Regions from separate parts of the Homo sapiens genome. Here region 2 is linked to region 1. The links come from fine-mapping of genetic effects on gene expression. Tissue or cell type: monocytes. Region 1 holds a variant in brackets; the other region holds the start of a gene. All regions are shown on one strand. Distances are between the middles of the regions.

Evidence for each region. PIP is the estimated chance that this variant, and not a neighbour inherited with it, causes the effect.
Region 2: EDC4 starts here. The variant in region 1 is the best candidate, but not a certain one, in a credible set for the expression of EDC4 in monocytes (TOPMed, PIP 0.51).

What each region holds. Positions count from the first base shown.
Region 1 is chr16:67,675,778-67,678,530 of GRCh38, reverse strand. GFOD2 (Gfo/Idh/MocA-like oxidoreductase domain containing 2) reads left to right here. Exons shown (of 3, transcript NM_030819.4): 3 at 2,478-2,753. Among named protein-coding and RNA genes, the nearest start is that of C16orf86, 10 kb to the right of the region's middle. RefSeq lists enhancers at 1-508, 509-1,465. The variant G/A (reference allele first, on the strand shown) is at 1,235.
Region 2 is chr16:67,871,938-67,874,690 of GRCh38, reverse strand. It overlaps EDC4 (enhancer of mRNA decapping 4), which reads right to left and starts at 1,639. Exons shown (of 29, transcript NM_014329.5): 1 at 1,348-1,639. The coding sequence starts at 1,429. It overlaps NUTF2 (nuclear transport factor 2), which reads right to left. Exons shown (of 5, transcript NM_005796.3): 5 at 2,124-2,753. RefSeq lists an enhancer at 923-1,423 and a silencer at 1,317-1,526.

The DNA of each region.
Region 1 (2,753 bases):
ATCATGTGGGACATCGGCCATTTCTTTTTCTTTTTCTTTTTTTTTTTTTTTTTTGAGACAGAGTTTCACTCTCGTCGCCAAAGCTGGCGTGCAATGGCGCAATCTTGGCTCACCGCAACCTCCACCTCCCGGGTTCAAGTGATTTTCCTGCCTCAGCCTCCCGAGTAGCTGGGATTACAGGCATGTGCCACCACGCCCAGCGAATTTTGTATTTTTAGTAGAGACGGGGTTTCTTCCTGCTAGTTAGGCTGGTCTCAAACTCCCAACCTCAGGTGATCCACCCACCTTGGCCTCCCAAAGTGCTGGGATTATAGGCGTGAGCCACCATGCCCAGCCAAGACATTGGCCATCTCTATGAAGTTTTCTTAGTTTTTGTTGCAAGATTTATTGTCTGTAGTTACTATTGTTTCTGCTGTAAGCTGGCCCCTCCTGAGCCTGTGTGAACAGAATCCATCTTGGTCCATCAGGGTAAGCTGCACCCTGCAGTGAGCCATCAGAAATAATCTGTGTCTTAACCATTACCTCATCTGAAAACATTCAGAAAATGTTTGGGGGCCTGAGGGAAGATGAGCACCATGGTTACTGAAGATGCACATACCTGGAGAAGGCACATTCTTGTGACCGGTTGCCCCAGGTCACAGGCATCCAGGCCTAAGGCTGCCCCTCCAACCAGGAAGTACCTGTGGAGTGCCAGAGTGGAGCCTGGATGGCTGTGGAGGAGAAGCCCAGGTGCACACATTGCCCAGATGGGCTTCAACTAGAAGGGTAAGCACATGAATTAGTCCAGCCCAAGACTTGGTATCCAGTTTTCCACATTGCATGTAGGCTCTGTGTAATGCTTTCAGTCTCGTTTCCTAACCCACCCCTGCCTTCTCAGTCCTTCAGCATTTCGTGATCATTGCCTCTCCCCAATCCCCAAGTCCTTCTGCACAGCAGCCCCCATCTCACATTCAGTGGCTAGAGCAGGATGAGCAACCGAGAGACCACAGGAGGCAAAGAGTCAAAAAGATAATTTTGGAGTGGTCAGGCATGGCAGCTCATGCCTTAATCCCAGCACTTTGGGAGGCCAAGGCGGGTGGATCACCTGAGGTCAGGAGTTGGAGACCAGCCTGGCCAACATGGTGAAACCCTGTCTCCACTAAAAATACAAAAGTTAGCCGGGCGTGGTGGTGGGCACCTGTAATCCCAGCTACTCAGGAGGCTGTAGCAGGAGAACCGCTTGAACCCAGGAGGC[G/A]GAAGTTGCAGTGATCCGAGATCATGCGACTGCACTCCAGCCTGGGCAAGAGTGAGACTCTATCTCAATATTTTTTTAAAAAGAAAATTTTGGAGGAGTGCACAGATCATGTATCAAGACCTTATGGGTGGGGCCTTTGTAAGGACTTTGGCTTTTATTCCGAGAAGCTATTGCACATTGGAGAGCTTTTTCGTGGGTTTTTGCCAGGGTGTCTTTACCCTTTCTGGCTTACTATGACTTGTAAACTTCTGTATGTGTCTAGTCCATACTGCTTTTTGGGCTTTCTAAGTTTTCTATTTAAAGTATTAGCACAGGATTTCCTTCGACTTGAACCACACAAAGCTCGCAGGAACACTGCAGGTGTTAGTGTCTCATGGCTGCTCATATCCTCACAAGCTTTCATCTTGAAACATGGAGCAGCATTCATCCCTTCAGTTCCCAGCTGCTTATCCTCTAGCACTCTCCTCAGGGCTTTGTCCAGCTTTGTTTACCTCTGGGTGCGTGTTGGCTGCAGCGTACCCAGAATGGGTGTGAGGGCAAAAAGGGTATTCTCACTTCCTTCCCTTCCTGCCGGAGCCAAACATGTTCTAGCCTTGGGCCACTCTAACTTGTTGGACCAGTGTTTTCAGAGAACAATCTGCAGGGAATCTTAGGGCCCTCTCTGGAGTTATGACTAAGAGTAGAAGTTATGAATAGTCCATCCCCTAGAAAATAGGTTAGATTTCCTTGCCCCAAGCTGATGACCTAATAAATGCATGACAACATAGAGACACGTCCATGAAGTGTGCCCACCTCTCTAGCCCACCTGTGTTATTCAGGGTTCTCCAGAGAAACAGAACCAATAGGGTGTTTAAGACAGAGATTTATTTGAAGAAATTGGGGCCAGGCATGGTGGCTCACACCTGTAATCTCAGCACTTTGGGAGGCCAAGGCAGGAGGATCACTTGGGCCCTGCCTAGGCAACAGAGGAGGACCCCATCTCTACAAAAAAAAAATTTTAAATTAGCCAGGCGTGGTGGTACACACCTGTGGTCCCACTTAGGAGGCCAAGATGGAGGATCGCTTGAGGCCAGGAGATTGAGACTAGCCTGGGCAGCATAGCAAGACCCCACCTCTACAAAAAAGAAAAAAAAATTAGTTCGTGCAGTTGTAAGGCAGAGAAGTCCAAAATCCTCAGGGCAGGCGGACATGCTGGAGATTCCCCCTTGAAACTTTGAGATTTCCTGTTGTGTCCTGTTGTTAGGTATTGGGAAGAATGTGGTTTGCGAGAAGGCAGCAACATCGGTGGATGCCTTCCGGATGGTGACAGCCTCGCGCTACTACCCGCAGCTCATGAGCCTGGTAGGGAACGTGCTGCGCTTCCTGCCTGCCTTCGTGCGCATGAAACAGCTGATTTCGGAACACTATGTGGGAGCGGTGATGATCTGTGATGCCCGCATCTACTCAGGCAGCCTGCTGAGCCCCAGCTATGGCTGGATCTGTGATGAGCTCATGGGCGGCGGGGGCTTGCACACCATGG
Region 2 (2,753 bases), 200 kb before region 1:
AAGCCTCCAGGCCACTTCATTCAGATCAGAGCCACTTTAGCTGCTCAGGGACAAGCTGACAACTCTCCCTTCCATGAAGGGTACCATGAGGACAACCAAAAAGCAGGCTCAGGCTGTACATGGTTGGCCATGCCAGGCTCTACCAAATCTCTGCGGAGTCTAGTCTACAAAGCAGCTGAGCAGCAGGAGAGGTCCACGCCCAACTCATGAGTAAAGAGGGCACACACTCCAGGCCTGGGACAAAGGGCCGAGTGGTCTCAGGCAGCAGATGGATTTTCTGAAAGTAGGGGTTAGTTGAATCCACCCCTAGTGAGCACCAGTGCCTGCTTCCAGAAGCAGCCAGTCTGGGCCTCCCAGCAGGTGTAAGAACAAGATCTGAGGAAACACAATTCTCCACTGTACGCCCACACCATCATCACCGGCCACTTCAGAGATCCCTAAACCTGTCAGTAAACTAGTGCCTGCACACGTGCTATTTCCTCTTCCTAATAGGTGGCTTCTCCATAGGTGCCTTGGGTGCCTTTCCTGACACCCAAGCCCCTGTTCACATTACAAGACCTAGCCCAGTCTCCCCTCTCAGACCTGCACTCTGCACTCACCAGCCTCCACCCTTCCCACGCCCATCACAGTATCGAGACACTCCTTTCTTTCAATGACAACAGTATATTACAACCCTGTTAGCTGTGTCTTGGGGAATCTTTGGGGGCAAGACTAGTTCTGAGGTATCATTAAGAGCCAAAGCGAAATATGAATGAATGGGAACCAATTAGGGCTTGCAGATATTTGTAGCATAATTCAGTCAGGGTGGTGCGGTCTGTGATTTGCCTTCATCCCAGAAAGAACACGGAATTGAGACTGGACACCTTCCTCCTGGAAATCAGTTTCAGAACGGGAGGCCTGGAGTCTTTATTCCAGAGAGAAGGGCAAGTTATGGAGGGGGACCGGCAGCTCTTCAGCATCGCGCTTAAGCCTGGGCCCAGAATTCCATATACGGAGCCCAGACCAGGCCTCTGAACCATGGAGAAAGGGAAGAGGAGCTAGGCCAGTCCCAGGAACACTAGAGACCTCGGGGCCAGGAAACCAGAGGGCCCCAGCGGATTCAGAGAAGGCGCCTCACCTTCAACCGAGACGCTGAAGGACAAGGCAGAACAGCCTGAGGACAAGATAGGGAGGGGTCACACCCAGGGGTCTGCGCCCTTCGAGGGGCACAGTCAATCCCCGTCCACCCTTACCCGCCGGGAGGATCCAGAGCTAGTCCTAAGGGAGCTGTGGGCCCCAATGGCGGTTCAGACGCGCGCCGCCCTTTTGTCAGCTCGCCTGGGGCCCACCCCCGCAACCCCCGCTCACCGCCCGCGGGCCGGTCCAGCTTGAGGATGTCCCGCAGGTGCTGCGTGGCGTCCTCGATGTCGATGCTCGCGCAGGAGGCCATGGGCCCTGCGGCGGGCGCCCCGCCCGCACCGCGTTCGTTCCGCCGCCGCCGCGCACCACGCACCCTCGCTCACCCGCCACGGGGCGAGACAGCGGGACGCCGGTCACTACACAGTCCACCCGCAGTTCGCAAACCGCCACCCGCGCAGCGTCGCTGAGCCCCGCCAACCCCACCAACCGCCTCCACTTCCGGCACCCACGAGCCGAGGCTCCCGGAACCTGCCAGGGCCGGAGAAGAAAGGTTCCGGGCTGGGGGCGGAAGCCTAAACCCCTCCCGCAGCCAGTCCCCCTCGGCGGCCCCGCCCCTGTGTCCGCGAGGTCAGGAAAGTCCCACGGGGCTGAAGTAAGCGTCCACGCACTGGGCCACCTAAAGCCCTACTCGACTCAGAAGGCGCCAGGTCCCTGCCCACTCCCAGAGCATGGACTCCGATGGTCCTGGGACGGGGTCAACTTAGCCGCCCATGCTAAGGTCCCTCAGACCCCCAGAATATGCTGAATTGGCAGGTGCCTCAGGTTCCCTTTGGGAATGGGTCGGAATAACTCAAGGCCTGAGGCTACCCTCGAGGTCATAAAACTCAGGAATTGCAAGAGCAGGGGAGATGATCCCACTACAATGACCAGTCATTGTTCCCTACTGTCCCCCAGCATCCCCTTGTCCCACCTGGCACCCTCAGGTTGGAAGAAAGAAACCACAGTTTACAAATTCTTCTTTATTGCAGACAGTTCAGGCACAGGTACATGGAAGAAGCCGTATTGCAGATTTTACACAAGGTGGTTTGAGGCAGCAGGCACCTACCTCTTCCCCACCCCCACTTCCCCAAATACACATCAGCCTAGAGATCATTCCCACTGAAATCTCCTGAGCATGCTGTCCTCTCAAACAGCACACCATCCAGCCCTGTGCCCAATGTCACCAGGCAATCTGTGGGATCTGAGGAGGTCCTTAGCCTCCACCCGTAGTGGGACAGGGGAAGGGTATCCTTTTACATGTCAGATTTAGCTGTGGTGTCCTTACCAATCCTAAAACCCTTAACAGGGCACTGACCCAAATCTTGGGTTTGGTTCTAGCCTATGGTTGCTACATTGCCACTAGGTTTATACCATCCAGAAGTCTGTGGGACAAGGGGCTAGATTTGTACTGGGCAAGGCCTTTGTCCCCAAAATGGAGAAGCAGAAACTGCCCTAATAGCTAAGACTCCCCGGAATTGGAAGATAGCATGAAGTCTGTATGCTGAGGAAGGAAGTGGAGAGAGGCCTGGCAATGTCCTGCAGCAGTCTGAGGGGTGAGGACTCCTAAAGCATGAGTCCCTCACAGACTGCCTCCT